2 linked regions of the Homo sapiens genome follow. The protein of the gene in region 1 interacts with the protein of each later gene in a biochemical or structural test. Each region holds a gene or a part of one and is shown in the gene's direction. Other genes may lie near its edges. The genes, in order: TAL1 and KAT2B.

Evidence for each region.
Region 2: the proteins of TAL1 (region 1) and KAT2B form a complex in vitro, tested with the Homo sapiens proteins (one study listed by BioGRID).

What each region holds. Positions count from the first base shown.
Region 1 is NC_000001.11:47,225,698-47,229,517, reverse strand, and holds part of TAL1 (T-cell acute lymphocytic leukemia protein 1), read left to right. Parts: intron 1-166; 5' UTR 167-322; intron 323-3,628; 5' UTR 3,629-3,629; coding exon 3,630-3,820. UniProt on the Homo sapiens protein: Implicated in the genesis of hemopoietic malignancies. It may play an important role in hemopoietic differentiation. Serves as a positive regulator of erythroid differentiation.
Region 2 is NC_000003.12:20,151,486-20,155,035, forward strand, and holds the end of KAT2B (histone acetyltransferase KAT2B), read left to right. Parts: intron 1-846; coding exon 847-1,040; 3' UTR 1,041-2,919; downstream 2,920-3,550. UniProt on the Homo sapiens protein: Functions as a histone acetyltransferase (HAT) to promote transcriptional activation. Has significant histone acetyltransferase activity with core histones (H3 and H4), and also with nucleosome core particles.

The sequences.
Region 1 (3,820 bases):
CCTGCAGGTTGGGGGCGGAAAGCTGTTTGCGATTCCCTGGACTGGTTGGTCGGGGACAGGAGGTAATTCCCAGCCATTGACCCCCATTTCTCTCTCTCCCTCCCTCTTGCCCTGCCTCTTTCTCTCCACCCCTATCTTTCCTGGAAACTCGCTTTGGGCGCGGCAGATCGCCCAGGACCACACCGCAGCGTAACTGCAGGCCTCTCAGCGAAAAAGGGGGAAAGCAAAGACCCGGGTGTGCATCCTCTTCCTCGGCTTCCGCCCCTTTCCGGCGGAGTGGAGATCCTATTCAGAGGGGCCGGTCTCTCTAAATATGCCCCAGGTGAGTTTTCAGGGGAATGGTGCCGGTGGAAACGGTGTCTAGGAAGGCCTTGTGTTCCGGCCTGGGGTGAGGAAGGCTCAGGACAGAGGAGAGCCCATTCTCAGATTGGGGGTGGGGGGAGGGGAGGACCAGCCAGAGCTTGGAATCGGGATCTGACTGCTGTAGCTGCCTCTGTGGCATTCAGCGGCTTTTTCCCTTTTCCACCCAGGGTAAAACCAGCTAGTTGGACTTAGTCGTCCAGGCCTTTCCCATTGGTCCCGGTTCTGTGGACGTTTCCCAAGGCCGGTAACTTTGGGGCGGCTGTATCCGGGTGGTACAGACTGTGCCTGGAGCTCCCGCAGGAGGAAGGCGGCAGCCTTCCTGGCTAGTGCAGTCCCAGCTCGAGTGGGCCCTGATCCCAGGCCTGAGGCCTAGGGTGGGGAGGCAGGAACACCCCTCTTCTCCGGTAGAGGCGAGGATGGTGGTGCTGTTCCCTGGTGGGTTTGGTACTTGTGCAGGCTTGGGGCTTCTCCAGGGTGTTGTGCTGGTGTGGGCCCAGAAGAGAGACCAGAGGCTGGGTCTAAGGGCCTGAGGCTGTTTTCATCTAAGAAATTCTCTGTATGGGGGATTGGGTCTGCTTGAGACCTGTCCCCAGGAAGAATCTCCTGGGGTCTTCTGTCTTGTTCTGGCACAGGTGGAAATATTCTGGCTGTCTGGCAACTGCAGATGAGGATTTCCTGTTGGGGGCTATAAGCAGGGTCTCCGTAGTACAAAGAGAGAGGAGCTGTAGTCGTCAAATACTCTAGAACGATTCAGTCTAAAATCTCCCTCCTCCTTCATTCTCCCCAAATAAAAACAAACAAAATCTCTCGGGCGTTCCTTTCTGTAATCCAAATCAAGTGATGCAGCTTAGTCGCCAACAACCATCAGTGTTTGTGAGTGGCTTCTTTGGGGCATGGACCTCTGGCTGGTAATCCTAAACCGGCAGGATTTTCCTAAAATGTGGGGAGGAGCCGGGAGAGGTCCTCCACAGATCCTGGGATCCAATCATATATTTCTTACAAGGAACCTTGGCGATGGGATATTTATAGGTGTCTGGAGAGGACATTTGTGGCCAGGGTCAATTCATCTGGAATATGTACTCCCATTGCCTCTCAGGAATCCACCGCTAGAGCAGGAGCCTAAGAATTAATTGGAGGGTAAAAATGTGTCATAACAGAGCTTGAGCTCAGTCTGCAACTGCAGTGCACACTGTCACTCGGTTAGAAGCTGGGGCTTAAGCATGGATCACTGGGCTCACACCGGTGTGTCAGGACGGAGAGCAGTGAGGTAGGGAACCAATACCTTGAAGCTTGTATGTTTCCCAGGGGTTGGTATATTTCTGGCACATTTCGCTGCTGCTGGGAGCAAGAGGACCTGGCTGATATACTTCTGGTGCATTTCCAGTGGCCTTGGTGTCTTGGTGGTTGCATTCTATGGATAGAGACCTATTGTCTCCACCAAAATCATAAACTCACTTCCAATGAAGTGTCAGGGACCTACTGCCTTTACAGCTTGTATACACCAGGACTTAGGGAATTTTGTGGTTTCTGTGCCAGACCTGGGGGGCTGGCATTCCCAAAGAAGGTGTACAGCAGTCTGAATCTTGACTCTCTGTCATCCTGGGTGTCTAGTGGCAATTGAGCCAAGCTCCAGAGGAGGCTGCAGATGATCCATTCTCCCTTCTGGGGTGGGAGGGATGGTTCCTAGGATGACTCCTGTCCAGAGCATTGCAGTGGCAGTATGGGAGCTCAATGGCTGCTATGTATGATTTAGATGGACTCTGCATGGGGGTAAATTGTTTTTTTGTATTTGTTTTCTTCTTTTAAATACCCAATTATATAATTCAGAGAGCAGAAAGCTTATTTTAAACAACTTATGTGGTGTTGATCATATATGTACAACTCACAACTCACAAACTCTGGCCCTTGAGTCTCCTGATTTTTCTGTTTTGGTTCTTGCTGGTGCCCAGCTCTATCTGGATGAAGCCAGGTGATGGAAGAGCCCCAGCACACCTGTGGGAAGTAGAGTGGCTGTGGTCATCTCGGAGTATGCTTGTGGGGTCACAAGGTGGTTTCACTGCTCTGGGAATACAGGAGGGTTGAGCAAAGTGAGATTATTGCTCTGGTCTGGCTCTCTCACAGATAGGCTGTGAGTGACTTGACATTCGGCCAGGCAGTTTTCTCACTGGCCCATTCTCCTTGTTAATAATGTTTACTTGAACGTTTGCACAGCACTTTCAAATGCATAAAGGAGGTATTCCTCCCATTTCCCAAAGAACACCAAGGCAGGAGATGGCGGTGAGGGGGGCTGGAAGAGTTCAAGGGCCTCATGACATCCTGTCCTGCTCTTGGATGGGAGTCCAGACCCCACTGGCCTCAGGGAACCCTTCAAATGCCCAGCTCCATTCTACCTCAGCCAGGCCTCTCTTTGAGACTCGACCTCACTTCAGAGTCCAGCTGAGCAGAACGAGGTGGACTGTGCAGGGAGGTTGGGCCAGCACCATCTTCTTCCCTTGGCGACCTCTCATCTCTGTCTGAGTGGGAGTAAAGATCCGCTGGGCGGGCAGAGGACTCACAGTGGATTTGCTCAGTGTAGACAGACACTCCCTCACTCCCCAGCGGGGGCGAATGTGTGTGTGTGTGTGTGTGGAGGGAGCTGGTTCCTCGGGATTATTCTCTGCCAGCTCTGGCGGAGTGGATCCCAGTCCCCGTAGCCTCCACTTTCTAATTCCCTACTTCCATCCGCACCGGGTTTCTGGGTGTGTGCCTGTAGGTGGGCTGGGAATATTGCTGAGAGGCCAAGGGAGGTTCCTAAAGCAACGAACCCCTGCCTGACAGATTCCCCGCTAAAACCAAAGAGCACGATCCGGAATTTGTTCCCTCCTCTTCCCTTTAGGCCTGAGAAAGGGGACAGAGTAATCTCTTTCTTGCCTCCTTGTACATTTCCTTCCTCCTGATTTCCCCTTCTGTGTTTCTGTCGCTGGCTGTATTCCTTTTCTTCCGGTGTCTCTGTCGTCTTCCTCCATCTCTGTCCTTTTGGCCCTCAGTCTCTGTGTCTCCCAGGCACCCCTCCCTTCTCCCAATCCAGAGACCCTCTTTCCCTCCCACCCTAGCCCCAACCGGCCTCCCGCCCTAGCCCCACGTGGCGCTAACTTTGTCTGCCTCTTCTCACGTCTCGGTGCGTGAGTTCCTCTCTCTGCCCTTCTCCCCTTTACCCCAGCCCACGTCGGTGGGTCAGGGGCGGTCGTCAGAGCGGGCATCCGCTTGTCTGTCTGTCTGCCCACAGGATGACCGAGCGGCCGCCGAGCGAGGCGGCTCGCAGTGACCCCCAGCTAGAGGGACGGGACGCGGCCGAGGCCAGCATGGCCCCCCCGCACCTGGTCCTGCTGAACGGCGTCGCCAAGGAGACGAGCCGCGCGGCCGCAGCGGAGCCCCCAGTCATCGAACTGGGCGCGCGCGGAGGCCCGGGGGGCGGCCC
Region 2 (3,550 bases), on another chromosome or scaffold:
TACAATTATAGCTTTTAACAATAAAGCCAGACTTCAAGACAACCAGGGAACCATAAATAGACAAATGTTAGCGTCTATTCTAATCTGCATAGAATTCCTTAAATTAGTCCTGACAGTGAGGATTGAAGAAACCCTACTTTAGTTTTATCAGTTTAGATGGAGTACTGTTTTCACCTGTAAAATACTACAATTTAAAGCAAGTAGCTATATTGGGAAATATTCTTTGCAATAGTCTCACAAGGCTTACTTGCTTTAGAAAATAGATTATTAAATGAAGTTTGTTATTCTTATTTCATTGATGGAGCTTGAAGCAAATTCATTTGAATCATTTTACATGCAAGGGCACTGGTGTGTTCACAGATGTATTTATTATCAGTTTCTCTATATGACACCAAAACAACTGTGAGTTTAGTGAAACAAATGCAGTCTGATTGTTTTAAGTAATTAAATGATTGAATACAAACGTTCCACCTGCTCTACTCCATATAGATAGAGCCTCTTCTGTATAATTCTGACTGAATAGCTAACAGTAGTCAGTTCATCATACTTATTGTTGCTAATCTACTTAGCTTCCTTGTGCTGAATAGGGGATTGAACCAGATGACTAATAATGGTCCCTTTAATGCTAAAATGGCTGTGATTTTACATTTTTAAAAAACCCACAAAAGAATGAACTTAAGATTTAAGAACTGTTTTCCTTGGTCATAAGAATTTCTCTTAAATAAAAGCATTGGGATGATAAAAATGTAATCAAACCAACAACATAGATTCCTTTCCCAGTCCCAGTTTTGTCAGCTGGTGTTTAAAGGGAGTCAAAGATTGCTAATATTTTTTTTTCCTGTGCAGATCTGAAAACCATGAGTGAACGCCTCAAGAATAGGTACTACGTGTCTAAGAAATTATTCATGGCAGACTTACAGCGAGTCTTTACCAATTGCAAAGAGTACAACCCCCCTGAGAGTGAATACTACAAATGTGCCAATATCCTGGAGAAATTCTTCTTCAGTAAAATTAAGGAAGCTGGATTAATTGACAAGTGATTTTTTTTCCCCTCTGCTTCTTAGAAACTCACCAAGCAGTGTGCCTAAAGCAAGGTGGTTTAGTTTTTTACAAAGAATTGGACATGATGTATTGAAGAGACTTGTAAATGTAATAATTAGCACTTTTGAAAAAACAAAAAACCTCCTTTTAGCTTTTCAGATATGTATTTAAATTGAAGTCATAGGACATTTTTATTTTATGGAATAGATTTTAATCTATTTACTACTATTAAGGTAAATTTTCTATGGCATGTCCATTAGCTATTTCATGATAGATGATTAGGGGTTTCCTCAAAACCTGTGTGTGAGGAAATTGCACACAGTAGCAAAATTTGGGGAAATCCATAACATTTTCAGACCATGAATGAATGTTTCCATTTTTTTCTAATGGAATGTGAGAGTTTACTTTTATTTTATTCTGAAGGACTTTAAGGAAGGGATACATGATTTTAAAAAAGCCTGTAAGAGGTGAAATATGTGATGTTTGAAGTCTCTTTATAGACTTTTTATATATATTTTTTAAAACACTCATCTAGATGAGGTGCTTTGAGCAGTTCTGAAAAATGCAGTTCCAGGAAAGCAACTGCTTTGGTTCCTAAGGAAGAAATTCTAAATAATGCAAACTTTTAAAATAAGCATCTAGGTTTTTGATAATTCTGTCTACTTACAACAAACTTGTTAGTACATAACCACTATTTTAATAATTATTTTCTCTACACAAATGTGTAATATCATATTTGACTTTGCTTATGCAGGCCATAAGTTCCAAAAGATAATTTCCCTGCCCACAAAGGCATAAACTTGAAAACACATGAGATTGAATCAACATGCTTTAATAGGAAAAGATGTATGGTCTATATATGTATCAATCTGGTGAATCCTCGTTCTAATAAAGGTTCTTTTTCTTTTCTATGATACACACAGCCACGCTGATAATATGCAAATGAACATTTTCCTTTATGTCTCTCCAGATAATGTTTATTGTCTGAGGTAAATTAAATTCCCACCAGGGTTTGCTGTCAGTATTTTAACACCCACATTAGTATATGCGTCCAGGGTCATAACCCCCTAAAATCCATCATGCAACCTTATTAATCTGTCTTGGGATTCCAGTTTAGTGCTTGGATTTATTTCCTGATTACACTACATAGAAAAGTGAGACATCTGCCATTCCCAACTCTGGGAAAACCAACTAATATACAACCATATAAATGAAGGCCATCTTGATGGTCTCAACACTAATTTTTATGATGCAAATTTATACACTGATTTTTGTAAAGGACAAAGTTTTAAAAGCGTATTTAACTTGATGTTTTCTATCAGCATAAATAAAATGGTCATGAATAGTCATTAAAAACAGTTGCCAGTGATAATCTGCATGAAGGAAAAAGAACCCTGCAAATGGCTATTGAGTTGGAAGTATTGTTTTTGATATGTAAGAGATATTCAGAATGCTCACACTGAAAATGCCTCAACTTTTTAAAGTGTAAGAAACCACCATGAGTGGTGTCTAGATTTCTAATGAAGAATCATGATACAGTTTGGATTAAGTATCTTGGACTGGTTTTAAACAGTGCTTTGTACCGGATCTGCTGAAGCATCTGTCCAGCTGGTATCCTGTGAAAGTTTGTTATTTTCTGAGTAGACATTCTTATAGAGTATTGTCTTTAAAATCAGATTGTCTCTTCTATATTGAAAGCATTTTTATGTTTTCTAATTTAAAAATTAATATTTTCTTATAGATATTGTGCAATAAAGCTGAAGTAGAATGTGTGGTTTTTGCAAATGCTTTAACAGCTGATAAAAATTTTACATTTGTAAAATTAATATATTGTACTGGTACAAAATAGTTTTAAATTATATTTTAAAAAGCTTCCAATCTTGTGGTGTGTTTTATTCATTCAGTAGGCTGAGGTTAACAGAACAAATTATGATCTGGTTGATAACCATCAATTGAATCCTTAAACCTTAGATCTTAAGCATTCTGTTGCATTTGGGGGAGGTTTCATAAAAAATCCATAGGTCATCAGTAAGAGATTTTCAGGAGAGACACTTACTCTGTCTTTTGAGTTATCCACTGCATCTTACCCACTCACCCGCTAAACAATAACAAAAAAGATTCATTGAAAGAAGAGTGTTGTTGGTTTAGAAATTAAAAGATTTTTGTTTTTATACTTTGCATCTGTGAAATATATATGATGAGAGAAAAATACAGCCGATTTTTAAACATCTCCCATATGAGCTTCTAATGTGATTCAAAATGATGTCTGTAGGAAAGAATACTATATCCTTTTGGGGTTTGAGAGGACCCAACCAAGAGAACCCCTCTTCCCTACTGAAATCTAAACCAACTGAGAAGTTAAAAAAAAAAAAAAAAGGCATATGATGGCCAAAGTATTACCTTTAATACTAGTAAAATGGATATTGGAGAATGTGGCTTCCTTTTATCTGTGGAAAATGAGCTTTCTAAGGCTGAAACCCAGAATGTGATTGACCAGCTGCTCTGTACC